Linked DNA regions of Homo sapiens. The protein of the gene in region 1 interacts with the protein of each later gene in a biochemical or structural test. Each region holds a gene or a part of one and is shown in the gene's direction. Other genes may lie near its edges. The genes, in order: SIRT1, MAPK8, RICTOR, AFP, EZH2, PARP1 and BMAL1.

Region 1 (3,500 bases):
ACCCTCCGCCTTCCAGGTTCAAGCGATTCTCCTGCCTCAGCCTCCCCAGCAGCTGGGATTACATGCATATGCCACTACGCCCGGCTAATTTTGAATTTTTAGTAGAGACGGGGTTTCTCCATGTTGGTCAGGCTGGTCTTGAACTCCCGACCTCAGGTGATCCGTCCGCCTGGGCCTCCCAAAGTGCTGGGATTACAGGCATGTGCCACCTTGCCCCACCTCACTTGTCCCCTTTTTGTGTAGTGTTCTTCATCCGGTTAGAATATCTTCCTCCCTCACTTCATATTCCTTGTTTTTTCACTTTATTGTACACTTACCACTTCTTGAAAAGCTCTGTATCTTACTTTTTAAATTGTGTTGTTTCCTGGTCTAGAATATAAGTTCTACGGGAGCAGGAATTTTTGACTGACTTGTATACTCCTGTCTTTTCAGTGCCTAAAAAAGTGCCTGGCACATAGTTTGTGCTCAATAAATATTTAATAAATATGTGAATGAAATGGGAAAGTATTTCGATGTAGAAAGCATTATCAGTTTTTTATACCAAAGGTATAACCATCTTGAAAGTGGATCTTTTTGTGTTCTCACTCTTACAAATGGCTTGATTATTTAAACATAGTGAAGATCAGTTTCTCTTTGGTGTCTGTAATTTATTTATTTATTTATTTTTGTTTTCTCAAGCCTAGGGAGCTGGTTTGAGCAATCTCAGGGTAAAAGAAAATGATTAGTTCTCAGAACATCAACATTGTATGTATTATCTTGGAAGATGGGTTAAGATCAAATTGAAAAATTACCGGAAAAAAATTAAGATGGCAGTTATGTATAGATTTTCATTTCTTTTTCCTGTGTGGTTTTAATGATAAGTAGTACAGGCTTTTAGGACTGGTACGATTTTTCTATGTCGTAGAACCCTTTTGTAAATACTTTTGGTATTATGGTGTGTGTTTCTAGATATTAACCATAAGAACTTAATTCTGGTTGTTAATTAATTAGACTCTTGAAATATATACTTACAGCTGAAGGGGGTCTTCCCAACTCTTCATTAGATCTTCCTAATCTCATTGGGATATAGCATTAATTCTGAGTGTACCGAGAATGAAATACCATTAAATTGCATTTTCTTACTTTGCAAAAAACCCTCACAGAATGCTAACTCATTACTTCAGAAAATAAATGAGATTTTGAATTACTTGATAAGTTGACTTTAAGCCTTTTCCCCCTTATTGTAGGTCCATATACTTTTGTTCAGCAACATCTTATGATTGGCACAGATCCTCGAACAATTCTTAAAGATTTATTGCCGGAAACAATACCTCCACCTGAGTTGGATGATATGACACTGTGGCAGATTGTTATTAATATCCTTTCAGAACCACCAAAAAGGAAAAAAAGAAAAGATATTAATACAATTGAAGATGCTGTGAAATTACTGCAAGAGTGCAAAAAAATTATAGTTCTAACTGGAGCTGGGGTATGTAAGACTAGTACATGGGGAGGTCGTATATGTATTTTCTTATGCCTTTTCCAAGTAGGAAACATTTTTCTGGTTTAGAAGGATTTATCCTTACATGATAATGGATGTTTGGGAACTGCCAAAAACTGAGTGCAGCAGCAGTTGCTAAATTAGTTCAGATTTTTAAAACCTCTCCAGCCTTAAAAAAATATTTGCTTCTGCTTATTTATAGCACAGTGGGTAAATGGAGTTAAGGCAAGATTTCTACCTACATTATATCATAGCTCCTAAAGGAGATGCAGGGAATTGAAACTCTGCTTTTGTTAAGGGATGTCAGTCTGATGGAGAAATTGGGTATTTGTTAGATCTTTATGAGAAACTGGAAACCTAATTGGTATTCACAAGTGAAAAGCTTAGTGTTGGGAAGAGTAACAGATTCCTACCTTCCCTCCATATTAATTAAGATGATGTGATTGTGGCGACTTGACATTTTCTATTTGATCTACCTTAGGGTTGCAGCTAATTAGTTACCTAAGACTATTGCATAGTGTGTGTTTTATACAGAGTATATTACATGTTAGCAACCAGAGCAACTGCTGTAGTAAAATTTTGTCCTGTTTTCTGCCATTTCGAGTTGCGAAAGGGTGTTACATAATCTTAGATGATCATCAGGAGTATGTTTTGCTCACAGATAACGATGTAGACAAGTTTGTTTAACTTAAATTGACCTTGACTCCAGGTCAAATTGGAGTCAACTCTGGTAAGATGATGAAACAATAACTTCTGAAATCTCTATTTGAAATGTCAGGATTTTTTTGTACGATTAGTGGGCACGTCTCAAAGAAATGAAGAATTGAAATATTATACACCTTTTTTTTTTTTCTTTTTTTTGGATACAGGGTCTTGCTGTGTTGCCCTGGCTGGAGTGCAGTGGTGTCATCATGGCTCACTGCAGTCTCAGCCTCTCCTGGCCTGAGTCTTGCTCTGTTGCCTAGGCTGGAGTGCAGTGGCAGGATCTTGGCTCACTGCAACCTCTGCCTCCTGGGTTCAAGCAATTCTCTTGCCTCAGCCTCCTGAGTAGCTGGGATTACAGGCGCACACCACCACACCTGGCTAATTTTTGTATTTTTAGTAGAGATGGGGTTTCACCATATTGGCCAGGCTGGTCTGAAACTCCTGACCTTGTGATCCGCCTGCCTTGGCCTCCCAAAGTGCCAGGATTACAGGCGTGATCCACCGTGCCTGGCTATACATTGTTTTTTTTAATGAAAATAGAGAATTGTTGTAGTATTGAGGTAATAGAATCCTAACTAAAGGAGCAATTTCTTTGGAATTACTTCTCTGTAATAGAAATTCTTGGCTGGTGGAGTGGCTCATGCATGTAATTCCAGCACTTTGGGAGGCTAAAGTGGGAGGATCACTTGAGCCCTGGAGTTTGAGATCACCCTGAGCAACATAGACCCTGACTCTACAAAAAATTAGCCTGGTGTGCTGGTGCGTACTTGTAGTCCCAGCTGCTAAGGAGGTTGAGGTGGGAGGATTGCTTGAGCCGGAAAGGTTAAGGCCATAATGAGCCATGATGGCACCACTGCACTCCAGCCTGGGCGTCAGAGCGAAACTGTCTAAAAAGAAAAAAAACAAAAAGCCGGGCGCGGTGGCTCACACCTGTAATCCCAGCACTTTGGGAGGCTGAGGCCTGCGGATCACGAGGTTAGGAGATCGAGACCATCTTGGCTAACATGGTGACACCCCGTCTCTACTAAAAATACAAAAAATCAGCCGGTCGCGGTGGCAGGCACCTGCATTCCCAGCTAATCAGTAGGCTAAGGCAGGAGAATGGTGTGAACCCAGGAGGCGGAGCTTACAGTGAGCCGAGATCGCACCACTGCACTCCAGACTGGGCGACAGTGTGAGACTCTGTCTCAAAAAAAAAAAAAACAAAAAAAAAAAGAAAAAATTCTTCCCTACTTAAAATAATTTGTTGAAATGGTTTATTTTCTTCTCAAGTTGCATTTGCTTTAATTTGTTGGCTAAATGCTTAAAAGGCTTA
Region 2 (4,337 bases), about 19 Mb from region 1:
TAATAATTATACACTTAAGTCTAGAAATACGTACAACTTAATATGAATTTTGGAGCTGTCTGTTGCTTCTGGCCATCCTTTTGTTTTGTCCCCTACCTCCTTTTTGTTAATGTTCTGTGTGGTTTGTGTCTTTTGATTGTTGTCTCATTACTCACATAACATACTGACCCTTTCATCTGAGAATTTCAGCAGTAGTAGTTTTGTATGGTAACGATAGCTTTGGATTCATACTTTTTGTTCATCCCACTACTTTTAATATTTATATTAACAGTGATTTGTTATGTGTTTACCAGCTAGTAACACTTAGAATTGTTTCAGGAGGAAGAATGGGAAAAGGCATATTCACAAGGTTACAATAAGTGAGTTTTAGGCCTTGGCCTTCAGGGTCCTGGAGTGTAAAGACTAGAGGAAAGGAGACCAAGAAATCCTAACCTTACAACTTAGCAAAAAACTGAATCTTTTTTATAAGGGTCAGAGCTTTAGAAAATTTTTTTAAACCTAAGCTAAACAAAGAATGGCAAAAGAAAATGCCACTTTTATCGAAGCCTTTATTTTTATTACAACTGATTATTTTCTGTTAGTGTAGAAAACTCAGTAAAACAGGATGTGTTCTAGAAATATTGTCTAGGAGATATAATCATGTTTTCTGATAAATTGACAGAAAAGGAAAAATTTTGTATATTATTATAGCATTGTGTGCAGTTTGCAGTTAGAGCCACTATGGATAGTAATTGTCATTATTCTTAGTTGCTTATCATTTTATTTAGAATTTGTGAGTTTAAGCTTCCATTTTAAGGTAAAATCAGTTAGTTTGAACACACAATAAATAAGGTTAATAAAGCTTATTTATTGATCATTTCTGTCCACCTACAATCATTGCCTTTTGCAGGGTGCCTGTGAGATATAAAATTTATAACTGCCACATCCTTTCTTAGGAATTTTTAAATTTCTATTTTCTTGTAATATGAATATGACTAATGTATTGAACATTAGTTATGGAGTATTTTTCTTAGCTACTTGATATTAGATATTGATCAGTGGAATAAAGTTATTGAACAGCTTGGAACACCATGTCCTGAATTCATGAAGAAACTGCAACCAACAGTAAGGACTTACGTTGAAAACAGACCTAAATATGCTGGATATAGCTTTGAGAAACTCTTCCCTGATGTCCTTTTCCCAGCTGACTCAGAACACAACAAACTTAAAGGTACTTTTTACAAATATGTACATTTAATCCCATTTGGGGTGTGTAGTGTGTGTGTATGGGTTTGTGTGTTTATATGTATTCATATTCTTATGGGACATGAACCCAAGGTTTTCTCTGGATGGTGGGGAAAAAAATGAGGTTTTTGTTTTTTTTTTCTTTAATCTTATATATTTTAATCATATGTATAAGATAATTTTACAGTAATATTTTTAAAACATATGCTTTTTAAAAAATCTCAAATTGCTGAAAGTTATTAATAATTTGAGAATCTTTACAAATATATGTACATTAACACCATTATGTTTGCAGCCAGTCAGGCAAGGGATTTGTTATCCAAAATGCTGGTAATAGATGCATCTAAAAGGATCTCTGTAGATGAAGCTCTCCAACACCCGTACATCAATGTCTGGTATGATCCTTCTGAAGCAGAAGCTGTAAGTTATTTTCTTAATGTTTACAGAACATATTGCATTCTTAGAGTTAGAATGACAGTTAGGTTTGGAGGAGACCTTTTAATTTTAAATAAAAATGTAGATACATGATGATGATGTTTTTCTGTTTCTTCATGAAGACTACGTCAAATAAACTAATGAACATATTCGAGCCCCTCCTACACAAAATAAAGTTACCTCCCACTGTTTTTTGCAATCTTGCCTGGATACCTAACCAGAGAACTAGGATGTTGAATGCTCTGGGGGAACATCCTAACTCAGGTATAAAACAAATTACTGTATCCAAAGGAAAACAGAATTCTGTGATCTGTGATATAAATAAAATGTGGCAATTTCAAGAGCTAGAAGAAAAGAAAAAAGACAGTTAAACATTTTATTTCCTGCAATGAAGGAGTCTTCCTAAACTATTATGTCTGTATAAGTAAGTTGATGATTGATCAGTCTTGATCTAATGATATATTTTTATAAGTCATCTGTGTGGCTAATATTTCAAATAACTACAGAGTTAAAATACTCCCAGCATACTGACTTGGTTATTATTGCCTTGTGTTTTTCAGCCACCACCAAAGATCCCTGACAAGCAGTTAGATGAAAGGGAACACACAATAGAAGAGTGGAAAGGTACATTCGTCAGATTCTTAGAGGGAAAACTGTGAAGGAGCTTCTGGTTTTTATATGGTGATTTATTATCATGTTAGAGAAATTTGTGACTTTAATATGCATAACCGAAATGTGGTAATATTAATATTTTTACATAAGTAGAAAGTAAGTCTGCTTCCTTCCTTAACTTAATCTTAAGTTCCCAAGTTTCCCACCCCAGACACAGACACATTAGTGCTCTGTCTCATATTTTTTTCCATGGTTTGTGAATACACAAATGTGTTTAGTGTCTCCCACCTCTCCTCTTCCACCCTTTTAAAATCACGTATGGTTGTGTACGGTGTATGCTATATGTACTTGCTTTGTTTATTTATTATATATTTTTTTGAGTTGGAGTCTCGCTCTGTCACCCAGGCTGGAGTGCAGTGGTGTGATCTCGGCTCACTGCAAGCTCTGCCTCCCGGGTTCACGCCATTCTCCTGCCTCAGCCTCCTGAGTAGCTGGGACTACAGGCGCCTGCCATCACACCCGGCTAATTTTTTTGTATTTTTAGTAGAGACAGGGTTTCACCATGTTAGCCAGGATGGTCTCGATCTCCTGACCTCGTGATCCACCCGCCTCGGCCTCCCAAAGTGCTGGGATTATAGGCGTGAGTGCTTTGTTGATATAATCAGATATCTGGAAGGTTATTCTCTTTTAGTTCACGTATCTGCCTCTCTTGCTTTAATAACTGGTTAGTGTTCTGCTGTATGAATATGTCACACTTTATATATCCATCTCCCTCTTGGTGACCATTTAAATTGTGTCCAGTCTGTTGCTGTTAGAAACAACTCTGCAATATTCATGTTCACATATGAGAACATGCCTGGAAGAAAAATCCTGGAAGGAGATGTTCTGAGCCAAAGATATTTTTCAGTTATTTCCAAATTACTCTCCAAAGAAATGGTAGTAGTGTACACTTCCGTCCATGTTATATAGGAGTCTCTCTTTGCCCTCACCCTTGCCTACAGAATGGGTTAATTTTTAATATTTGTAAATCTAATGTAGTTTTATTCTATTTTATGAATGTGGCTGAAATTAATCATGCTTTGATAGTCATGGAAGTTTTCAAATATTTCTTCAAAAGGTGCCCTGGGACATGTGGGTCAGGTAATTTTTAGGTCCCGTTTACTTCCATTTGTGTTATTGTCCTTCAGTGTTTTGACCACTTTTGTAACTGCGTGACTTTGAGTAAATCACTCCCCCTTCATCTCACCCTCCTACACTGCCCCCTGCATTTTACCTCATCTTAAAATAGAGGCAGAAGACCTGTTATTAAGAGTTGTCTCTAAATCCTGGGAAAGGAAAGGGGACTGGGGAGGTATAAACATGAATAAGTGACCCATCTATAAATGTATTTTGCTAAGCATGAATTTGATTCTTTCTTAGAAATTGAAGAGATTTAGAGATTGGTTTTCTCTGAACTTTGGGAAACCCATGGTTAGCAGAGCCCGTGATAAAGTTAGAAGAATGACAAAATGATAAAATTGGATAGAGTCTGCTGCATTTGAATATGTAATGTGCATTTGAATATGTATAAAGATATAGCTCTGTACTGAGTATGTATGAAAACATTAACCTAATATTTTTACATCCTACTAATTTACAGTAGACGATGAAGTATTTTGTAGAATCTTGTGGTTTTTTTGGTTGTTTTTTTTGTTTGTTTGTTTTTTTGAGACAGGGTCTCACTGTGTCCCCCAGGCTAGAGTGCAGTGGTATGATCATGGCTCACTGCAGCATCAAAACTCCTGAGCTCAAGTGATCCTGCTGCCTCAGCCTCCCCCGTAGCTGGGATCACAGGTGTGATCCACTGCACTTGGCTAATTTTGTTTTTTTTTTTTGAGACAGGGTCTCACTGTGTTGCCCAGGCTGGTTTCAAACTTCTGGGCTTAAGTGATCCTCCTGCCTCAGCCTCCCAAAGTGCTGGGATTATAAGTCTTAAGCCACTGCGCCCAGCCTAATTTTTAAAAAAAAATTTTGTAGAGATGGGGTCTCACTGTGTTGTCCAGGTCATAGACTCTTAATAGGCCAGC
Region 3 (4,337 bases), on another chromosome or scaffold:
TTTAGAAACAAGAATTGATGAGTGCCTGAACTTCACTGGTAGTTAGGTTGATTAGATGAGGACGCATTTTCTGGGTATTTTCAAAATAAGATGGACAGAATTTGTGGGCTGATTGGATACAGTAAATAAGAGGTCCAACTTGGCTCATAAGGTTTCTAATTTAATGACAATATATAATGGATCACTATTAAGAGATCACATTTATAAAAAGTGATTCAAGATTAGGCTAATGAATTTTCAATATGTTGAACTGGCATTGTCTGTGCAGTAACCACGTGATGGCTTGAAAATGTGGATCTGGAGCTCAGATTTGTGAGGAAAATGGCAGATATGGGGGTCATTAGTATATAGTACTAGTTGAAACCTGAGCCAAAAGCTTATGGATATGATAGAACATTTGCATTCATAATACCTTGATCTGTCTACCCTTTGCTAAGTATCTGACATATTTTAAATTTAGTGACTCATTGTGATACTATGTGCAATTAAAACAATATTATCCTCTAGGAATACAACTCCAAATATGTTGACTTGATTGAGGAACAACTCAATGAAGCACTTACTACTTACCGGAAGCCTGTTGATGGTGATAACTATGTTCGTCGGAGTAACCAAAGGTGCGTACCCAGTTATCAGATTTAAAACTAGTTCATCATAAATTATTTTTAACATTTCTGAGTTTTTGTATATTCTGCTTCTAACATGATATAGGAAGAATCTTAATGCGCAGCATTAATTGCTCAAAAATTCAGTGGCATTCATGGCATGTTGAATATCCTTACTGATAACGCATTCACATATACTCCATGCTGGCACCCCAGTCTGTATTTCTAGGCCTAGATTCTCTTACCAGTACTTTGAGCTCTGATAAACTGTTACAGGTTGAACATCACTTATCCAAAATGATGAAATGTTTCGCATTTCAGATTTTTTCAGATTTGGAATATTTGCATATATATAACGAGATACCTTGGGAATGGTACCCAAGTCTAAACATGAAATTAATCTGTTTCATATACGCCTTATACACGTAGCCTAAACATAATTTTATGCAGTGTTATAAGTAATTTTCTGTATGAAATAGTTTGCATTAAATACTAATGTGTGGAATTTTCCACTTACAGTGTCATGTCAGTGCTCAAAAAGTTTTGGATTTTGGATCATTTTGGATTAGGGAAGCCCAGCCTATATTTTACCTGAGAAATCCTCATTCCTTGTTACTTTCATATTTTTATTTATGCTGGAGAGTTGTATCTAATTTTATTTATCAAACATTTATTAAAATTCTTTTGTTCTAATTAGCATATTTAAATTAGCCAAGAGATATAGTAATCATCTTTATTATACTAGATTACAGCGTCCTCACGTCTACCTGCCTATACACCTTTATGGACAACTAGTACACCATAAAACAGGCTGCCATTTGTTGGAAGTACAGGTAAAAACATAATTCACTTATTTTAAGTAGCTACAATAGTAAAAAAAAAACAAAATCTTAACATTGCTAAAATATTACCTTTGCAAAAACTTCTCAAAAGCTTTAATATCAGTGGTGTAATTGCTTTTAAATTCATCTATTTTGTAATTGACTTAGGCATTCTATATTTATTAACCTGAGAAATATTAATGGCCTTGCAATGCATTAACTGACTTGTGTATGACTTTTTGAATAACTAACTTGTTATGTAGAGTAAGCAATCCAATGAAGATCTGAGTTCTTTTTTTAGAGTTTAGTGGAGAAATTCAGATCTCCAAAAACGTACTGAAAAACCGAGTTTTTCTTCCACTCATTGGGAAATTAAACTGAACCTAATACAGATTAAGTTATCCTTGTTGAGCAATAAATTGAAAGTTGCTGGTTGTGAGCACATTTTATTCTCGCGTACTTCATGGAATGTTAACAAGCATAGGCAAGCAGTTGTTCTTTGAGTTATAATATGTACACCGCATTTATGGTTGTGAATATGTCATGCAACTGTTTCCAATAAATGTAACGTTTCTCTTATTTTAGAAATAAAGTTATAGGAATATTTGTTTTTGTGACAGAACAATAGTTATTTAACAATTTAGTTCCCGATTGTATCAGTATTCATCTCAAGAGCACAAAGTTTTGCATAAATGTACTCTATAGTTTCATGTGTTTTTATATTACGTCTGTGAAAACTGTTGGGACAAGTATTTTCATATTAACATTTGAAAATTTCACTAAAAATTTAAATGATTTTCTCAGTGTTACTACTTACATAGTATGATAAAACCTAAGCACTAATTTACTTTCTGTTTTAAAGAATAAGTATGATTATTTAGTAATACTAAGTGCCAAGTACTTTGGTAAGCACTGTATGTGCAATAATTTATTAAATCTTGAAACCTTATGATGCAAATGTTATTATCACTCTTCTAGATATTAGGAAATCAAAGGATGAGGAGATGAAGTAACTTGCCCAAGGCCATGCAGTTAATAAGTGATAATTCTAGAATGTGAATTCAGAACCCCTGCCCTATGCTGCTTCTCAAGAAATTTTACATAAAATTATTTAGAATTTAAATATGCAAAAATGACAAAAAACAAACGTTATACTGGTTTTATGATGCAATAATAATATATTAAATACATAAATATATTATTACTCATGGTATTTTTTTTTCTTTCTCCAGAATATTATTACAGAACTCTGTCGTAATGTTCGTACACCAGATTTGGATAAGTGGGAAGAAATTAAAAAACTGAAAGCATCTCTTTGGGCCTTGGTTTGTAATAAACACTTCTGTAAGATCTTCGCAATTTTTAGATTTTTAAGTTTTTTTTTCATTTATACTAAATAGATAAATATTTTCTTTGGAACTACTTATTAGATTAATATTTAAGACTGGATTGTTCCTGCCAATATAAGTGTATTATCTCTATGTTGAAGAATAGATGGTTGAACTATTGGTTTCATGACTTTTGTTTTGTTGCTAAGACAACTAGAATTAATTCATGCCTAATGTTTTGTACTTGAGGAGGCTTTTACATTTTTTCTCTCTCAGAGATGAGGTTAAATTTGTTTCTTGGTAGCTTTCCAAATCTTTTGAAAGAGTGACTCTTATATTTGATGTAAGTGATTTCTTTTCTTTCAGGGAAATATCGGCTCATCAAATTGGGGTCTCAATTTGCTACAGGAAGAAAACGTGATTCCAGATATACTAAAACTTGCAAAACAGTGTGAAGTTCTTTCCATCAGAGGGTAGGTCATTTAACTCAGAAATCTTTCTAATGTAGACGTTGTTATTCACAAATGGATGTTAGGGGAAAGTATTTTATGATTAAGTGCAATGCATAACTGTTAATCCACTGAAAGTTCTAATGATACAAGATTATTAACTGTATTAAGTTAAACATCTAAACGAACTCCTTGTTTACTACTATAATTTGATTTTTATTATATTGAAGTTTACCTTGTAGGTAACAGGTAAGGCATAGTGTTGTACAGATACTCCAGTATTCCTGTAACCCAGCTGTTCCAGATTTATACTAGAAAAGCTAATATACCTTTTTTGCTCATGTTGCATTGTGTTCTTTTTATTTTGTTGTAATTACTATTTTTATTGGGAAGGTTTGCTTGTTTTTTATTGCTGCTAATTTATTCCTGACTAGTCTTAATAAGTTTTTTTTTTTCCACAAACGCAACCATTTTGGTGGGTTTTAGAGAAAGTTCAAAGTATGTATAGCAAATTAATCTGTGGTGGCTTTAAGAAATCTCAGCTTGGAATTATAACTGTTTTTACTGCATCTTTTATATACAGGACCTGTGTATATGTACTTGGGCTCATAGCTAAAACCAAACAAGGCTGTGATATTCTAAAATGTCACAACTGGGATGCTGTGAGGCATAGTCGCAAACATCTGTGGCCAGTGGTTCCAGATGATGTGGAACAACTCTGTAATGAACTTTCATCTATCCCAAGCACTCTAAGTTTGAACTCGGAGTCAACCAGCTCTAGACATAATAGTGAAAGTGAATCTGTGCCATCGAGTGAGTATCCTGACAGGTTCATATAAAGTTAGCCAATGTTAACATTTATATTTGAATTTTAGAATTTAAATGTATTTGTTACATTTGTAATTTGCTTTTGTCTAAGATAATTATTTGGCAATAATAGCCTCTTGGAGAATGTGTATATTTTCATAACAAAGAGTATAATCACCAGCTTACATTTTTCTCTCTCCTTATATTCTAAGTAGCTTTTGAGGATTCCTACAAAGTTATGTAATAAGCCATGTGCCAGAAGAACCAGTCCTCCTTTTTTTGACAGAAAAGAAACAAATATAACAAGTATTTATTTGTCTACCTTCT
Region 4 (4,337 bases), on another chromosome or scaffold:
GAGAAGTGATGGCTCCTTTTGTCTCTTAGTTCCAATAACTTGAAATATTTTTCTCCACATATTTCAGTTTTGTTCATGAATATTCAAGAAGACATCCTCAGCTTGCTGTCTCAGTAATTCTAAGAGTTGCTAAAGGATACCAGGAGTTATTGGAGAAGTGTTTCCAGACTGAAAACCCTCTTGAATGCCAAGATAAAGGAGTAAGTTGCTCTAGAATTTTAGGGGAGTATGAAAAACTGGATTGATATCATCTGTTAAAAATGCTGTTTGTTTGAAAGCCTCTAGTTTTCAACTAGTTGTTAGCCAGTTATATCTATTTGTCTAGATATTAAGCTGTTATTAACTAGCAGTCAGCAGCTAGTGGCTTGCTTTAGAAACAAAAATGTTAATTGCTTCTCAGCCTTTTGGCTAAGATCAAGTGTAGAAATAAAAATGTTAACCAAAAGTCCTTTGATCCACAAATAAAGGTAGTATTCATTATTCATTTTTGGATAACTTCAGAAAGGCAAGAATTTGGTACAGAAAGAACTGTAACCATTTATCCAAAGATTGAGTTTTGCCATTAAATGATTTTGTGATTTATAAAATGTTAAACTTAATCTCCCCAAAATCCATTTTCTGTAATTATCAAAATTTACACTTTACCATATTTAATATTTAAACATCTCTGATTGGTTTTATAATAGTATATAATATTGATCAATTTTATATACAAAGTTATGCATCCAAGAAAAGAAAAATGTATATGTAATAATTCTTCATTTTCAGGAAGAAGAATTACAGAAATACATCCAGGAGAGCCAAGCATTGGCAAAGCGAAGCTGCGGCCTCTTCCAGAAACTAGGAGAATATTACTTACAAAATGCGTATGTTTTTGTAAACAGTATTTTTAGTGAATTAAAATTATTAAAGAGAATGTAGCCTTCCCCATTCTCCTCCTTTGGAAGCAACAAGAATGACCTGTGAGGTCTGATCTGTGGTATTGACTTTAAGTTCCCCATACTGTGCAAATTTTTGCAGTAAAGATATCCATTCTGTCATAGTCTGTCCGAGTTAAAGCACCAAAAGATCACAGTTAAAATCAATGAAGCTCCGAGGTTGAGAATACAAGTCAGGCTTCCTCCTGGAGTTTGCTTTTTCATTGTGATATGCTTCTATAATAGGAGTACAGGGAGTGGTTGTTAGAGTAAATGCATCTCAAAAGTTGGTTCAAATACCATGTAGATGAAACAAACGAGCTGACCTCATGTCTTCTGGCATGAGAGTAGAGAGTCTGTGAGAAGAAGCAAGGCGGCTAAAAACTCATGAATGACTCAGCAGGACTTAGTTAAAAAATGCTTCTTTCAGGTTTCTCGTTGCTTACACAAAGAAAGCCCCCCAGCTGACCTCGTCGGAGCTGATGGCCATCACCAGAAAAATGGCAGCCACAGCAGCCACTTGTTGCCAACTCAGTGAGGACAAACTATTGGCCTGTGGCGAGGGAGCGGTGAGTGTCTGCTTGGTTTGGTCCCATCTCATTTCTGCCCTGTTTGACTTGAAATAGCCTCATAATTCCCCTCTAGGGAAGACGGTAAAAACCAATGTAGAGATGGCCTTAGGAGGCTTGTTTGATTAGTCACGGTTGGAGGGGTGTGAGAACCCAGCTCTGGATGGCTGGCATGTGGCCATGCTTCCTATTCCTCCAGGGTGGCTGGTGGAAGTTCAGCCAGTTTAGTCAACAATATCTGAGCCAACTTTATATATCGGAAAGACAGAACGACCAACATGTAACTCATAATTCATAACAATTCATAATTCATAACTTCAAATCATAATTTCTGCTTTTTGTTCATATACTTACTTTGATGTTTTAAAAAAGCTTTATCTTTGATTGATTAAAATTAGTCATGCTATTTTAGCCATATTTATATTTTCACCTTTTGTAACATGATATTATTATTATGACATCAGGAATAATTGGTTCCCTTTCGCAGGGTATAGGGTACAGCACAGGATAAGTATTATGTTCTGAATAGTAAAATGACTTTCGAGTCAGTAATGCCAATATTCTTTACTTCCTAATGTCACTAGTATCATACATAAGATTACAGGATGAATTAAAAATATTTTTCCTATAAAGTCATAATTGCAAACAAAATTGTCTATTTTATCCTTTTTCCTCTTTTTCATAATGGGGAGTTATTTGCTGTTAGTCTTCATGTCATACATTTTTTCCCCAAAGGTTAAGAGTAAAAGGAGAGTTCTTGTGATTAAATGTCACCTCAATTGTTTGTTGAATTTCCCATGCTGGGAGGCTGCAGGGATGCAGGATGGTGTAATGGTTCAGGAGTGTATGTTCCGGAGGCCACCAGCCAACAACCGCATTCTACTTTCACTATTCTTTAGTTGTATCACAGTGGGAAAGCAACTTATGTCATTAAGCTTGAGTTTTTTCATCTGACATTTGAGAATACAAATTATACCACCCTCATACGACAGCTGTTTTAAACAAGATAATCTGCATAACTCACACAGCACTAGTCTGACAGATAAAGTGCACACAAAACATATTATTTCTTATTACAAGTTATTACTAGGTGATTAAGAAATATCTCCTAAGTAGGCAAGGTAGCAAGATTCTACATTAGGAAAGTCTTAAAAACCCACAAAATTGCTCTTACTTCTTTTCAATTAGGATGATATATTAGCTGCAAGTGTATACATGTGTATATGTATGTGAATAAAAGGGGTAAGTTTGTGCTATTCTTACCTTCAGATAGTGATTATCAAAAGAAAAATGGAAAGTTCAACTAAATACACATGGGAAACATAAAGGCAGAGACATTTTTGTCCTTTAGAAGTGTGTATGTAACTGGAAGCATGTTTCAAATAGCTGACACAAATAGCTAAATGACTATCCTCAACATCACATATGGACCATCTGCTACTACTTGCTAAGGCTTAGCCCAAACAAATGGGTAAATCCTGGAATTTACAATATAATGTCACATGATCCTACATAGCAAATTTTCCTGTAATATTAATTATAAATTGCTGGGCATTAGAAATTATTGCAGCAGTTTTCTGAAAAACTGAACCAACTTTGTGACTAATGCCCAATCTCCTTACTTTTTTTTCTCATTCTCCTAACCAGGCTGACATTATTATCGGACACTTATGTATCAGACATGAAATGACTCCAGTAAACCCTGGTGTTGGCCAGTGCTGCACTTCTTCATATGCCAACAGGAGGCCATGCTTCAGCAGCTTGGTGGTGGATGAAACATATGTCCCTCCTGCATTCTCTGATGACAAGTTCATTTTCCATAAGGATCTGTGCCAAGCTCAGGGTGTAGCGCTGCAAACAATGAAGCAAGAGTAAGAAACTGTTACTTGCTAGCATGGAAAAGAATGACAACCCCAAAGAGTAACTGAGACTTCTACCTCGCTCACCTAACACTATTGGGCTCACTAACAGAGCGTTACTCCCAAAACACTTAAAATGCCTTTGAAAATAGTTTTGTCTCAGTGTCTTCACAGTCTCATTGGGGAAGCAGGTCTAGAAAAATTGACGAGGGTGGACAATTTCCTGTTTGTAAAAATAATCTCTGTTGTAACTGTTATTGTGATATGTATTTGGGGGTTGAGGAAAAGTGGGCAATCTATTCTGAGGAATTAGAGTGTATCTTTGCAGCAAATTTGGGTACTTCCATTCCAAGCACAGGAAACACATCATTGAATCTTTTTTTACACTATTTACACTTTGAAGAGAATAACCATCTTATTTAATTCAACCATGCAGTTTGGGTGTTAAGAAATGACATGTACATTTCAGTTCATTGTGGGAGCTCTTTTGTAATGGTGATGGTCATGCAAGTCAATGGAGCTTATGTTCTTCAAACTCCCATGCATTTTAATCCTCACTTGTTTTGTAAATAGTCTTCCTTCATTGGAAAACCCATTCTTCTCTTTTTTCCTCTATCACAGTCTGAGGTATGTTTCACAGTATGATAAGAATGTTGCCTGTTCTGGCAAGCTTTTTCTATTGCTCTGGTCTACTTTCTATTGCTCTGGTCTAAGTCCAACATGAAAGGCTTGCTAAGTGAGCAGTGCAGGCAATTAGTGCTGCCAGTGCCCAGATAAGGGGTGTGATAACTGGATGGGCAGGATTCGGAGATCTGGGTCTTTGAGTGTAGATAAGACACAGTTAAGAAGAGCGGACAGGAAAGGATATTCCTGGGGGATGAGGGGAGATTGCCTTCCACTACACATAAGTATGGTCAAGTATGAAATAGTGTTTTATCCACAACCTGCACAACTCCAGGCTGGTGGAACACTTGGCATGCTTTCAGCCTCAA
Region 5 (4,337 bases), on another chromosome or scaffold:
TAAGCACTTGGGGGTGGGAGAGTATTTTTTGCCATCGTTGTGGAAACCGGAATATGTGTAATGTTATGCATTCAGTAAAGGCAGGCCAGCTACACTCCACAGGTAGTAGGGAAGAATGTACTCGTGTTAATTGTGTATGATCGTTTCCATCTCCCTGGATTCATTGGCCTGCATGATGTTATCTTTACTCAGACGGCTCCTCTAACCATGTTTACAACTATCAACCCTGTGATCATCCACGGCAGCCTTGTGACAGTTCGTGCCCTTGTGTGATAGCACAAAATTTTTGTGAAAAGTTTTGTCAATGTAGTTCAGAGTGTAAGTATTTGTTGCTTTGATGCAATTGCATGAGAACTAAATAGGTCTTTGGTTAGCAATTTAAAAAATCAAAAATAAGAACATGGGAGCACTCCCTTGTTTACTTGACGAAACTCATCAATTTGACAAGTATTTATTGAGCCCCATACCTGGCCCTGTGCCAGTGGCCAGTCAGTCGCCTGGGTGTTGTGTGTCTGTGTGTGTGAGGCAGGCAAAGTTGTATTAAAGGAACCTGAATTTTATTTTTTTCTTCTTTGATCATTTAAATTAAGTTGTATTAAAGTTGGCACAGATTGTAAGAGGAATCTAGAAGGAGCTACCCAAATAATTTTTGGGCACCAGAAATCGTCAGAGTTAGGAGGGTTTTAGTCTTCAGATTAAAGGAATGTAGCATAAACATAGTAGATTTTTATAATTGTTTAATGAGACTGCACATGAAGCTTGGGTATTAAGGGAGTGTTTAGAACTAGGGGCTATTGGAATGGTCAAGGACCATGGATATTGTTCCATCCAGACCCTTTATTCACACCGACTTTAAATATATACACTATTTAACAAATGAAAAATGGAAAAACAACTCAGTGGTGGTCTTTTTCAGTGCAAACAGCTATAACTTCGCTGTTAATACTTCCATTTCCTTGTCTATATAGTAGGGTAATAAGGTGGTTGTGAGGGTTGAGAGTCAGTGAGATGCCCAGTACAGCCCTTGCCACGTATCTTTCTGCAAGTTTTTGCATACGGTGATGAGTGAAGAACCTCCAAACCTCTCTCTGAAGGTCAAAACCGCTTTCCGGGATGCCGCTGCAAAGCACAGTGCAACACCAAGCAGTGCCCGTGCTACCTGGCTGTCCGAGAGTGTGACCCTGACCTCTGTCTTACTTGTGGAGCCGCTGACCATTGGGACAGTAAAAATGTGTCCTGCAAGAACTGCAGTATTCAGCGGGGCTCCAAAAAGGTGAGCAACAAGTCACTTCTGGAAGATTGTTTGTAGTTAGCTATTTAGTGATGCAAATGTCAGGATTGCCTTAGATGATTTAGCTGGGGCAAAAAGTAAAAGTGATCCTTGAAAGGTGCAACTGATGAGAAAGTGTTCATAATTTTCTCTGGGTAATGCACCCTTGGGCAGTCTCTTCAGTTTTATATAGAGCACCATACTCTGATAGTAGGAGAAACCAGCAAATTCTGAGAAGTAGCCATTCATGGTATCAGATTTAGGAATAAGAGGTATTTTTTCTACCTGTTTAATAGATTATTTGAATTTGTCTTTTAGTTAATAGTTTATCTAGTATCCTTAATGCAAATAAATGGTGATTTCTATCAAAATATAGACTCATTCTCATCAAAGAGTATTTATAGATTCCTTGCTATGTAGAGTAAAAGATGAAATTTCCCATGGCAGGTTTTTATAGACTTACTTCCTGTTTGTTTAATAACCTTGAAAAAAACCCAGCTAGGAACTATATATTTTTAGTCTGGGGAATTGTATGTAGGTGAGTTAACTCTATCAGCCAGGAAGTAATGATTGAGCAAAAGACACTTCAGCAGCATGTATTTGGGAAATTTCGTATCTTTTTTTTTTTTTTAGGGCAGATGATAAGTTCTTTCTTCAGTCAGTTCTTTTTATAATAATAGCTGACATTTATTAAGCATGTAAAAATAGGCACTGTTGTGAGTGCTTTAGTGGATTTGTTCATTGATTCTCCTAACCCTGTGAGTGAGGAGTAAGTGTTAACCCCCATTTTACGGGTAAGGAAACCCAAAGTCACAAGACTTGTAAAGGAGCAGGAGATCAAATCCTCCAGGCTCCCATTAACCTGCTCTTATGCTCTGTGTGTGTGTGTGTGTGTGTGTGTGTGTGTGTATGTGGGGTGTAGAGTAGACATATCTTTGTTGTTGGACCATTTATTTATAATTGAGAACACACTTCTTACCAGCAAGTCCCCTTCTACCAGAAATTCTGCTCCAGGCAAAACATTGAAGTTCTCTTGGTTTTGTTTGTGTCTTTGAACCAAAGTCTGTGTTTATGGCAGAGAGTTGTGCAGGGTGGTGGGCTTTTTGTTTTTAGCTTTGACTTTTTTCTTTTCTGTTAGACATTTAGATGATTTTACTCTAGGCAGTTATATGTCCATTTAGGTCATTGGATCACAGTGACTCTGGTTCCGTTTCCGATGGCATACCTGCTCAGACCTAAAAATCTCAATTTCCCCCCCAAACAACTTACCATTGTACTCCTTCCTCACTTTGTTCAGAAAGTGGGCAATTCTATTCATACTGACATGTCCTCTTTGTAAGACATTTTTTAACTCTTAAAAATGTTAAACTATGTAGATACCTTTTACCAGTTGGGTTTCATTTGCATAGCAGTATTTAGCTAATTTAGTTTCTGATCAGAAGGCTATTTGGGAAGTTCACATGACAGGTGAGTGGTAAGATGGTCCAGAATAGGAATAGATAGGAAGCCTTTGTAAAGGTCACAAGAAAATTTTGGATGAAAGCATAATACTGAGCCGTGATGAAAAATTGGCATATGTTGGGGAACACATCCCTAAATACATAATTTATAGCAATGATCATCTTGGCATTTCTGCTGAAAATAGACTACTGGACTGACAAGATCATGATAACACCTCCCGGTAGTTTCTTGTGTTATCCTGAGGAGGTGGGGTGGAAGAACAAATCCAAAGCCAAGCTGCTATGGGCTTCAGAGGGAACCAACGCCAGTGAAGAATCAGGGGGTGTCCTGGGGCTGAAAATGGAATAACTATTAATAGAATCACTTGGGGAAAGTAGAGGGAAAGGTATGGAGAGGAAGAGTGATTTGGTGGTGTCCTTATATTAAATTCAGGTTGAAAGTGAATTACTCGAGGAAATCAAGGGCTGAAGATACAGGGAAGCCAAAAGTGCAGCAGGCCTAGAGCACCTTGCTGAACGATGGTCATTGCAGAGGACCAACACCACCAAAAGGTTTTCTGTAAGACAGAGATTCTTATCTGCTGTATAAGGAAAACATAATGTTCATAGCCATTCTCAGCAGCTTTCACGTTGACTGAAGCTGTGTGCCCAATTACTGCCTTAGAACAAACAGGTCTGAGGATTTACAGTGATAGCTTTTGTTTTCATTCTGTAGTCTACTTTGTCCCCAGTCCATTTTCACCCTCCTTTTTTGATGATGTGATTGTGTTTTATTCTCTAGCATCTATTGCTGGCACCATCTGACGTGGCAGGCTGGGGGATTTTTATCAAAGATCCTGTGCAGAAAAATGAATTCATCTCAGAATACTGTGGAGAGGTAAGGCACTGATAACCTGTATTCAGGTGGCATTGTATATACTAACTTTACTTTATTTTAGATTGATTTTATTAGGTAAGTCTGTGGGTTTGATTGGAAATGAATTGCCATAAACTGCCTTTTCAGCCTGGACTTCTGCATGTTTGTGGATTTGCATGCTTAGTAACTGGATTGTGCTGGGCGCGGTGGCCGACTCCTGCAATCCCAGCACTTTGGGAGGCCGAGGCAGGTGGATTGCTTGAGCTCAGGAGTTGGAGACCAGCATGGGCAACATGGCAAGACCCCATTGCTACAAAAAATGCAAAAATTAGCCGGGCGTGGTGGTGCATACTTGTAGTCCCAGCTACTTGGGAGCTGAGGCAGGAAGATCGCTTGAGCCTGGAAGAGCCTGGGAGGTTGAGGCTGCAGTGAGCCATGTTTGTGCCACTGCACTCCGGCCTGGGCGACAAAGTGAGACCCTGTCTCAGAGGGGAAAAAAAGCAAAACAAAACAGGATTGCTTGGTTCTAGCCACATTTAGTTTTTCTCGTCTAGGGACAACAGGGAGAACAAGAGCTTTACCATAGAGTGGCCTGCTTAATCCACAACCTAGTTGATAAGGACCTAGAAACAACAACGTCATTAGTTATTCACCTTTTAAATTGTCGACAGTGTTACCGAAAAATCATAGGCCTAGCTTCAGTTTGGAACCAGCTCACCCAAATTTTTTTTTTTTTTTTTTTTTTTTTTGA
Region 6 (4,337 bases), on another chromosome or scaffold:
GAGGCCGGATGGAGGAAACTGAACCTGATCAAGTTTAGCATTCTGGGGCCGGGCTTGGTGGCGCATGCTTGTAATCTCAGCACTTTGGGAGGCTGGGGTGGGCAGATTACTTAAGCTCAGCAGTTTGAGACCAGCCTGGCCAACATGGTGAAACCTGTCTCTACAAAAAAATGCAATGATTAGCGGGTCGTGGTGGTGCGTGCCTGTTAAGTCCCAGCTACTCCGGAGGCTGAAGCTGGAAGATTGCTTGAGCCTGGGAGGTGGAGGTTGCAGTGAGCTGAGATAGTGCCACTGCACTCCAGCCTGGGCGACAGACCCAGACCCAGACCCAGACCCTGTCTGAAAAAAAAAATAGTAATAACAACATTCTGGGCTTTCCTTTGGTATACTTGATAGTGAAAGAAACTCTTTATTATTAAAAGTAACTGTGATTTTTATGTAATGGTGATTAAGGGTGGATTCAGAGTTTTAATTCAGAATTTAAAGTTGGTCTGGTAGACTGAGCTGGTGAAGGCCAAAAAGAAAGAAGCCTTTTCACTTGCTTGAATTTAAATACCTTCTTTTACATTTACATGGGAGTATTGTTCTCTGAGTATCTGATACCTGACACTTTAGCCCTCATGCCTGGGGCATCTTGGGAGGGATGAGCTGGGCCCTCCAGCATTTTGGTGGGAGGAGGATGGCGGTAGACCTTTGAGTTGCTCTGTCCTGGGAGGGTTTGAGCACCCGGAGGCATGCAGTGAGGTCAGTTCATTCTCTCTGTGGCCTAGGTGGACAGGTAGCATGGCCTGTTCTGCACAGAAGGGAACCCAGTTCACCAGCTGCTGGTTGGGTGAGGACCCTGGTATGTTAGGTGCTCAGTTTTTGCTTGGGTGCACAGCCAAAGATTCTGTGCCTTGCCTCAGCTGTGCAGCTAACAAATGGAGTCGATAGTCTTGTGACCTTGGTTTGGTGCCTTTCTGCCACATCATTCTCAGTCCTGAGTTTAGGGCAAAGCATTGCTTTGGTCAGGGGTGCTTCTGCTGAGGCTCTTGTCCTCTAAGCTTGTGCTGTGATTGCACCATTGGGCAGCACCTCCAGGGTGTCCAGCACTGTGCCGGTGGTTGGGGGAGACAGCACCCAGACCAAAGGGCAGCAGGTCTGGGGCCCCTGGCAGAGCCAGGAAGAAGTGCCATAGCCATTACCTGTGCTCTTTATACAAGGGTAACTGGAACATTGCACAGGAAGGGTAGACAAGGGGTAGACAAGCAGGCAGAGCCAGGTCGAGGCCATTGCAAATATTCCATGATAGCCAGATGCTTAGGGATCTGTATCAGCAGCCTAATTGAGATCTGGTGGAACGTTTGAGAGTTGGAACATGAGTATGCTCTCAGAAATGCCATTTGTTGTCTCTTCTACAGCAGGAATTTCCCCATCCTTCCTTTTTTGTTCCATCTGACTTGGAGCCCTAAGCAAACACTGCGTGCCCTCTGTGACATGTTGCTAGAGAATAGCAAGATAGGCCCTTATGAAATAATCACCAAATGCATAGTTCTTAGTGAGGGGAGCTGTGGAAGGAGCATTGGGAGATCTGAGGGAGTGCTCTGAACAGGGCTGGAGAGCATTCCAGACCCAGGGGAAAGCTGATGTTGAGGAGTCCTTGTGCTGCCATAGTCTTAGCTGTGCATTTTAATACATCACATCCAGAAAGAGGCCACTCACAGTGGAGAGAGATAGTGGGGTACCTTATCATTGCTTTTCCAGAGTATTTTCCCTGTCCCCGCAACTCCATCCTAAAAATTCAGCACATTTACTTTTAATGCTGTTTTAATAGTCTTATTGCATCTGTGTGACATTTAGCTTTATGTTCTATAAAAGCAGATGTTTGGGACTTCCCTTACTTTAGTCAGATCACAGTTGGTGTATTTTTAAGTAGCTCTTCCTGCCGGGCAGTGGAGTGTGGTGGGAGGAATCATAGTGTCAAATCATTCATTTGCTGCCTCTGTGACTCCCAACCCCCCAGGCAAGGATTTCCAGCCCCACTGTCTCCATCTGTGAATGAAAGGGCTGGTTCCCACCCAGAGGCAGATTGTGGGATTACACAGGATGGCTTATGAAAGGAGCAGGGACACACACTACATACTGTGTCTTCCCCTTCTTCCCAATCGCTGTCACCGTCCACTCTGTAAAGCCAGGACTGGGTGCAGTGGTTCATGCCTGTAATCCCAGCACTTCGGGAAGCCGAGGCGGGCGGGTCACGAGGTCAGAAGTTCGAGACCAGCCTGGCCAACATGGTGAAGCCCCATTGCTACTAACAATACAAAAATTAGCCAGGCATGGGTGGCACGTGCCTGTAGTCCCAGCTACTCAGGAGGCCGAGGCAGGAGAATCGCTTGAACCCAGGAGACAGAGGTTGCAGTGAGCTGAGATCGCACCACTGCACTCAGTGCAAGACTCGGTCTCAAAAACAAAGCCAGACAGTGCTCGAGGCCTGGGAGCAGAACCTGACCCTGTCACAATGAAAGGCCTAGTGGGAAGCAAACCACCTGGAGAGGGGAACTGTGTTCCCTGTGGCCAGACTTCTCAGGTCCTACGCCTGGGAAACTGCGCCCCAGAAGGCCAGTGAGCAGCTGACTCCAGCTCTAGGCATGCTGCCCCGAACCATCCGCTGTCACAGTTGCCTCAAAGACCTCCATTCATTCCACTCCCATCTGTGTGGCTGCTGCAAGCTTGACACTTTTTTCTGACACACTTTCTCTGCTTTGCTCATTATCTGGGACTTGTTCCTTGTTATTCTTAACTGCAGAGGCACTTAAAGAGCCCTTTTCTGGGGCACACAGGCCCTTTGAGTCCAGGCAAGCCTGGAGCAGTTGTCTGGCCATTCCCAGCAGATGCTGCAGGATTGTGACTCTGCACAAGTGTCTTCTGTGCATTTCACTAGGCCATGAGGCAGCTCACCACTAAATGTAGCAGTGTGTGGTCAAAAGGGACGTGGGGCAGAGCTCAGTGGTAAAAGGCCACCTTTCTCGTGGCTGTGTTTGGTGTCCTAAGAGAATGAGCTCAAGAACAGTGGGCTACAGTCTTCTGACCCTTGGGGAAGATCGTGAGAAGGATGCTGCAGCTCTTCATGTGAGAGCGGAGGCTGTCCTCCTTTCACAGATAGGAGAACAAAAGTTTCATGTGCTATCCCACTGCTGGGGCTGGGACTGGGGTCGAGGTCAAGGTCAAGGTCTAGTGGGTCTAAGTCAAAAGTTAACTGCTTACTTACTTCCCTCTGTTTCTCTTCCTTCTAGTCGCCCATGTTTGATGGAAAAGTCCCACACTGGTACCACTTCTCCTGCTTCTGGAAGGTGGGCCACTCCATCCGGCACCCTGACGTTGAGGTGGATGGGTTCTCTGAGCTTCGGTGGGATGACCAGCAGAAAGTCAAGAAGACAGCGGAAGCTGGAGGAGTGACAGGTGTGTACATACTGGGGCAGCATGGGCATTCAGCCCCCACCCTGAAGCTCCCAGGAGGGCCTCGTCTCAGAGAGCAAAGCAAACCTCCCCCAGCTTGCCCTCTCCCACATGTGCAGATCAAGCGTATGGTGCCCATGTTATTTCAGCAACACCTCCTGGACTCAGCATCATCTGTTGCATGATATTTGGTATTTTGTTTTTCCAGGTGCTTGGAATGTAGCCTTTAAAGTTGTTTTGTTTTTAATATACTTTATTTTTGTTCATGGCAAAAGTAAGCAAAGAACAAAGAGTTTCCAGTACCCCCTCCCCCTCCCACCACACAGGCTCTTCCTTGTCAACACCTCCCACCAGAGTAGTACATTTGTTATAATTGAGGAACCTACACTGACACATCATTATTGCCCAGAGTCCAGAAACTCCTGATGCTCTACATTCTATGGGTTTGGACAAATGTATGATGACATGCATCTGCCATTATAGTATCATACAGAGTAGTTTCAGACCTGCACCCTTCTGCAGCCCCCTTAAGATTAAGGAAGAATAGCTCATCTCTGAGAGGGGAATGAGGTAGGAGGTGGGGCTCAGACACCAAACCAAACCGAGGACTAACTAAAGCAGGGACAGGGACGAAGCAGCTTTCCATAAAACACCCACCAGTGTGCCATATCAGTTTACCATTGCCATGGCAATACCCGGAAGTTACCACCCCTTTCTGTGACAACAATCTGATGACCTAAAAGTTACCACCCCGTTTCTTAACATGTCTGCATAGTCTGCCCCTTAATTTGCATATAATTAAAAGTGGGTGTAAATATGACTTCAGAACTGCCTTTGAGCTGCTGCTCTCAGCACAGTGCCTGTGGGGTAGCCCTGCTCTGCAGGAGCAGTCACAGAGCCAT
Region 7 (4,337 bases), on another chromosome or scaffold:
GGTTTTACTTTAATACATAATAGTATTTCTTCCTCAGTTTTCCCCTTTCCTACTCTCAGATTCCTTTGTTGTAGGTGGCCCAAAGAGGACCCACCCCACTGTTCCAGGGATTCCAGGGGGAACCCGGGCTGGGGCAGGAAAAATAGGCCGAATGATTGCTGAGGAAATCATGGAAATCCACAGGCAAGTAACACCTTCTAGTTCCTCTGTTAAACCAGTGGTTCTCAACCCAGGGAAATTTTTTCCCCCAGGCAATATTTTGCAATGTCAGGAGACATTTTTGGTCTTCACAACTGGGTGGGAGGTTGCTACTTAAACATCCTGTGGATAGAGACCAGGGATGCTGCTTGTTAAACATCCTACAGTAAACAGGACAGTTCCCTCCTCCCCACCCAACAAAGAATTATCCAATCCAAAATGTTAGTAGTGCCTAGATTAAGAAATCCTGCCTTAAATAAAGAAGCTAAACCAAAATAGCCCAGCGCTAAAGAGAATTCTTGAGAAGACTTAACTTTCTTATGGCTCAAGGAGCTTCTCAGTGCGGATAGATGTACCTTTACTTTACAGGAATGCAGGAGTAGAGCTGTGAACTATCAGAGTGATCTGGACCTTAACAAAACATTCACTTTTTTTCAATCAAAGAGCTGCCCAGGATTAGTACTAGAAACCAAGCAGATCAGCTAGTTATTACTAGCTGTCTTGGGAGAGACTTCCTTTCCATATGAAAGAGAAGGAGCTTAGAAGCAGTCCACCTGGGTCTGAGTCCTGGGCCTGTCTCTCTACCTGGCTATGCTGAGACTTACTTAACCTCTTGCTCTCTGTTGATTTAAACCATAAAAAGAAAGCACTATTTCCCAAGAATTGTGTTAGGATTGTGAGGGCACTCAGGAAAGTTCCAGGAACACAGCCTGACATATAGTGAGTGCTTAAAAATTAATTAAATCTGTCTTTAAGAGCAGTCGAGAGGGAAGCAGTTATCATAAGTCTGTCCAAATTTGGGGAATAGAGAAGGTGGTAACCAGATTCTTCAGAACGAAACTTAATGTAACATAAGAAAAGGAAGAAAACACTGCTGCCGCTGGATTCTCTCAGGAGAATTAGAGGCTGGCCTGTTTTCCAATTGGCCATAAAGGGGCTGTTATCCCCCTATAGGTAACACAGCTCTTTTCCAACCCCACAGGATTAGTGGGTGTGACTTCTGCATCAGGAAGGAGACATGAGGGTAGTGTGCAGTGTAATCAGGTTCAAACCCTATACTTTGCATTTGCATACCCTGTATTTTGCTTGAGACCATCCAAGAACAGTATCAAACAGTCCTTGACCTCAAGAATTTTAAAATCTTTTATAAGTCTATTTTCTTTATGATAACAGGAAAAAGGGAGGGTGCATGGGCCAAAGCAAGCAAAAGAGGAAAGATTTGAACTTGGCCTTAGCCAGGGTTTGCAATAAGAGTGGATGTTCCCTCTAGAAAAGCCAGGGCTATTCTTGAGTGGGCATGTGAGTGGCAAATTCAGGGTCAAGAAACAAGCTACCTAACTGGGCAGGCTTTGTGTAGGAAGGAGACACAGAGCTATGATAGGCGATTAAGAAACACAAGAAATGATACTGTGCAGTTTGGAAGAAACCTGTAAGACCCCATTTGTTGTAGGATGCTGAACAAGCATCCAAAGTCTTGTGTTACGCTTTGTGGAAGTTGCATTGGAATAGGGAGAGATGAAGGTGGGCATGTTTGACAACTCAGGAATGAGGCCTTATCCTACAGAGATGACACTGCCAAAAGAGAAATCAATCATCTAAGGTCTAGCGTTTGAAGATGAAATCAGGAATGATGAAACAGCAATTCCAAGATGAGAAACCTGGGAAAATAGTGGTTTCATAGACATAAGTAGAGAAAGGTGGGGGACACTCAGCAATTTTTCCGTAAGCAATTAGCAGCCGTTTGTGCATGCTGAGAATACATGATATGTAGTTGTAAACTGCCGTTAAGAAGCTTCTAATCCAGAAAGAAAACTTGTTCACTCATAAATCTAGAGAACTAGGCAGTACAAGAACCAAAAGACTTCTGGGTGGTGGAGGAGTGGTCTCTGGGTCACCCAAAAGCTACATTCATCCATGTAGGAGCTGAGAGTCCTGTGGTTACACAACTGCCATCACACTCTCCCTAAACTGTAGCTGCAATGCCAAGTGATGGATTCTTTCCTGAGGTCCTTCAGCCTGACAAGTATTTAGGTGGATTTACAGTTCTAAGTCTTCCCTTCTATAAATCTTCTGAGAGATATGCTAGATAAGAAAGGCCTGGACCCATTTTTCATCAACCACTGCCTTCGAAGGCTGCTTTTCCTGTCACTACTACTAGGCTACCTTTTAGACCCTGGTGCCGTCCATGTCCTAAGAGTATTCACTAGCTAAACAGTGTTTGTGGAGAAGGGGACAAATTGTTTTCTGTGGATCAAAGATGGAGGTTGATCTTAGAAGTTCTCCTCCAATTCACCTGGATTCTGTGAGGAAATAAAACTGGCCACTTACTTGAAATTCACCAACTGAATGCAAACTCCAATCCAAGGGCTTTGTCAGTGAGATGCTTGACTCTAGGGACTGCATTCTAGATCAGGTGCCTGTAGAACAAATCCAGCTTGTCATCTGTTTTTGTAAATAAAGTTTTATTGGAACACAGCCACACCGATTCGTATCTGTGGCTGCTTTCAAGCTGCAGAGGCAGAGTTGAGCATTTGTGACAAGACACCATATGGCCTAGAGAGCCTACTATCTGGCCCCTTACAGAAAAAGCTTGCCAAACCCTAATCTAGATCTTCATCCCCTTTCTCACCTTTACCCCTTAACAAAGCACATACACTCCACTGAAAAAAGAAAAGGCAGTGTAATTCTCTTTTCTGACAGGATAAGAGGGTCATCGCCTTCTAGCTGTGGCTCCAGCCCATTGAACATCACGAGTACGCCTCCCCCTGATGCCTCTTCTCCAGGAGGCAAGAAGGTAAGACTGATGATTCTTAGCCTAAGCTAGAGAACCTCTTGCCCAAGATCTGAAATGTTGGGGGTGGGAGTATGGAATTGCAACTGCGATTGCTGAAACAATTTGGACTACTTCCTCCTTGAAGTAAATGCATCTGTGTGAGGCTGGATACAAAGCATACTGGTAGGGCTAGGGAGGCTTGCTGACATCCTCAGAGGCTTTCTTCCATGTGAGTGGAAGAAGGGAGAAAGAATAAGGAATGGGGAACTGTCAGTTCATTTAATTGAGGGAGCAATTCAAGAGTTCCCATGAGGGAAAGATTATTGAGTACCTCACATAGAAAAGTTTCTCATTTTCTGCCAGGAATTTTCAAGGGAGAAAATATTAGTGTCTAGGGCAGGCAATGGAAACAGCAATGCCACCAGCAGTGCTTTGGAAATCAAGCCATGCTTTATAGCTGCAGAATACTTGGGGATCTGCTGCCTGGGGGTTCCATTGGTGTGACAGCATTGGATCCAAGCAGTGGATCAATCACCAGCCCTCATGAAGAGCTTGCTATAAGACTACACTATAAATAGGTTTAGGAACCAGTCATTTGTTTTCATCTTTGCTGGAGAACTTATAAGCCTAGGCCCATCTTAATCGTAAATTATAAATCTGTTTATATTGCCTGATGCCAGTAGAGCTTAGGACAGTTTAAAGGCCATCATTTTGGACACAATGGCTTCCTTTCCCCATCTCCTAAAACAGAGAGAGAGAATATCAGGAATTTCCATAGGCAGGACTCCTAGGGCACAAACCATCAAAAGCAGGGCAAGGATTTTCAAAACTGAGCTCCTCGGAGGTTTGTTCAGGTTACCAAGAGCTGTGGTGTTACCAGGTGGGATGGGCGTGGGGATAGTTGCTAAGGAGAGAGGGTAAGAGTAGAAATCCTGCTTCTACAAGGGCAGCAATACTTCTTTTTTATACAGGAATCTTCTGCAAACATTTCTATTTGAAAAAGCGTTTTGCTCCCCCCAAAAAAGGTTGAAAGTTAACAAATTAATGGGTAAGACTACAAAGTAAGACCTGGGTTCGAAGCTTGGCCTTGCCATGTGCTAGTTATGTGAACTTGTACAACTTTCAAGCCCTAGTTTTCTTTATAATGGAGCTAATAATGGTTAGGGTAGCCAGCATCTTTGCACGAGGTCCTACTGTGAGATAATATATGTGAAAGTGCTTGGCCCAAAATACCACTGACAGATGAAGTCTGAGCTTGGTGTCCCGTGACCCCCGCCCCCCTGCCCACAACACACACACTGCTTGCCAGCTGTCTTCTTAGCTGTTCTTCTGTTATACCTCCAGGTCCTTCCTGCATATTGGATCC

Evidence for each region.
Region 2: of the proteins of SIRT1 (region 1) and MAPK8, one has a biochemical effect on the other in vitro, tested with the Homo sapiens proteins (one study listed by BioGRID).
Region 3: of the proteins of SIRT1 (region 1) and RICTOR, one has a biochemical effect on the other in vitro, tested with the Homo sapiens proteins (one study listed by BioGRID).
Region 4: the proteins of SIRT1 (region 1) and AFP form a complex in vitro, tested with the Homo sapiens proteins (one study listed by BioGRID).
Region 5: of the proteins of SIRT1 (region 1) and EZH2, one has a biochemical effect on the other in vitro, tested with the Homo sapiens proteins (one study listed by BioGRID).
Region 6: the proteins of SIRT1 (region 1) and PARP1 form a complex in vitro, tested with the Homo sapiens proteins (one study listed by BioGRID).
Region 7: of the proteins of SIRT1 (region 1) and BMAL1, one has a biochemical effect on the other in vitro, tested with the Homo sapiens proteins (one study listed by BioGRID).

The regions. Positions count from the first base shown.
Region 1 is NC_000010.11:67,887,656-67,891,155, forward strand, and holds part of SIRT1 (NAD-dependent protein deacetylase sirtuin-1), read left to right. Parts: intron 1-1,226; coding exon 1,227-1,468; intron 1,469-3,500. UniProt on the Homo sapiens protein: NAD-dependent protein deacetylase that links transcriptional regulation directly to intracellular energetics and participates in the coordination of several separated cellular functions such as cell cycle, response to DNA damage, metabolism, apoptosis and autophagy.
Region 2 is NC_000010.11:48,424,861-48,429,197, forward strand, and holds part of MAPK8 (mitogen-activated protein kinase 8), read left to right. Parts: intron 1-1,027; coding exon 1,028-1,210; intron 1,211-1,519; coding exon 1,520-1,644; intron 1,645-2,219; coding exon 2,220-2,283; intron 2,284-4,337. UniProt on the Homo sapiens protein: Serine/threonine-protein kinase involved in various processes such as cell proliferation, differentiation, migration, transformation and programmed cell death.
Region 3 is NC_000005.10:38,951,875-38,956,211, reverse strand, and holds part of RICTOR (rapamycin-insensitive companion of mTOR), read left to right. Parts: intron 1-507; coding exon 508-617; intron 618-1,350; coding exon 1,351-1,438; intron 1,439-2,658; coding exon 2,659-2,751; intron 2,752-3,120; coding exon 3,121-3,227; intron 3,228-3,786; coding exon 3,787-4,016; intron 4,017-4,337. UniProt on the Homo sapiens protein: Component of the mechanistic target of rapamycin complex 2 (mTORC2), which transduces signals from growth factors to pathways involved in proliferation, cytoskeletal organization, lipogenesis and anabolic output.
Region 4 is NC_000004.12:73,449,268-73,453,604, forward strand, and holds part of AFP (alpha-fetoprotein isoform 1 precursor), read left to right. Parts: intron 1-67; coding exon 68-200; intron 201-768; coding exon 769-866; intron 867-1,347; coding exon 1,348-1,486; intron 1,487-3,133; coding exon 3,134-3,357; intron 3,358-4,337. UniProt on the Homo sapiens protein: Binds copper, nickel, and fatty acids as well as, and bilirubin less well than, serum albumin. Only a small percentage (less than 2%) of the human AFP shows estrogen-binding properties.
Region 5 is NC_000007.14:148,810,895-148,815,231, reverse strand, and holds part of EZH2 (histone-lysine N-methyltransferase EZH2), read left to right. Parts: intron 1-192; coding exon 193-318; intron 319-1,094; coding exon 1,095-1,273; intron 1,274-3,511; coding exon 3,512-3,607; intron 3,608-4,337. UniProt on the Homo sapiens protein: Polycomb group (PcG) protein. Catalytic subunit of the PRC2/EED-EZH2 complex, which methylates 'Lys-9' (H3K9me) and 'Lys-27' (H3K27me) of histone H3, leading to transcriptional repression of the affected target gene.
Region 6 is NC_000001.11:226,401,315-226,405,651, reverse strand, and holds part of PARP1 (poly [ADP-ribose] polymerase 1), read left to right. Parts: intron 1-3,272; coding exon 3,273-3,438; intron 3,439-4,337. UniProt on the Homo sapiens protein: Poly-ADP-ribosyltransferase that mediates poly-ADP-ribosylation of proteins and plays a key role in DNA repair.
Region 7 is NC_000011.10:13,378,263-13,382,599, forward strand, and holds part of BMAL1 (basic helix-loop-helix ARNT-like protein 1), read left to right. Parts: intron 1-59; coding exon of another isoform or gene 60-74; coding exon 75-183; intron 184-2,898; coding exon 2,899-2,992; intron 2,993-4,337. UniProt on the Homo sapiens protein: Transcriptional activator which forms a core component of the circadian clock.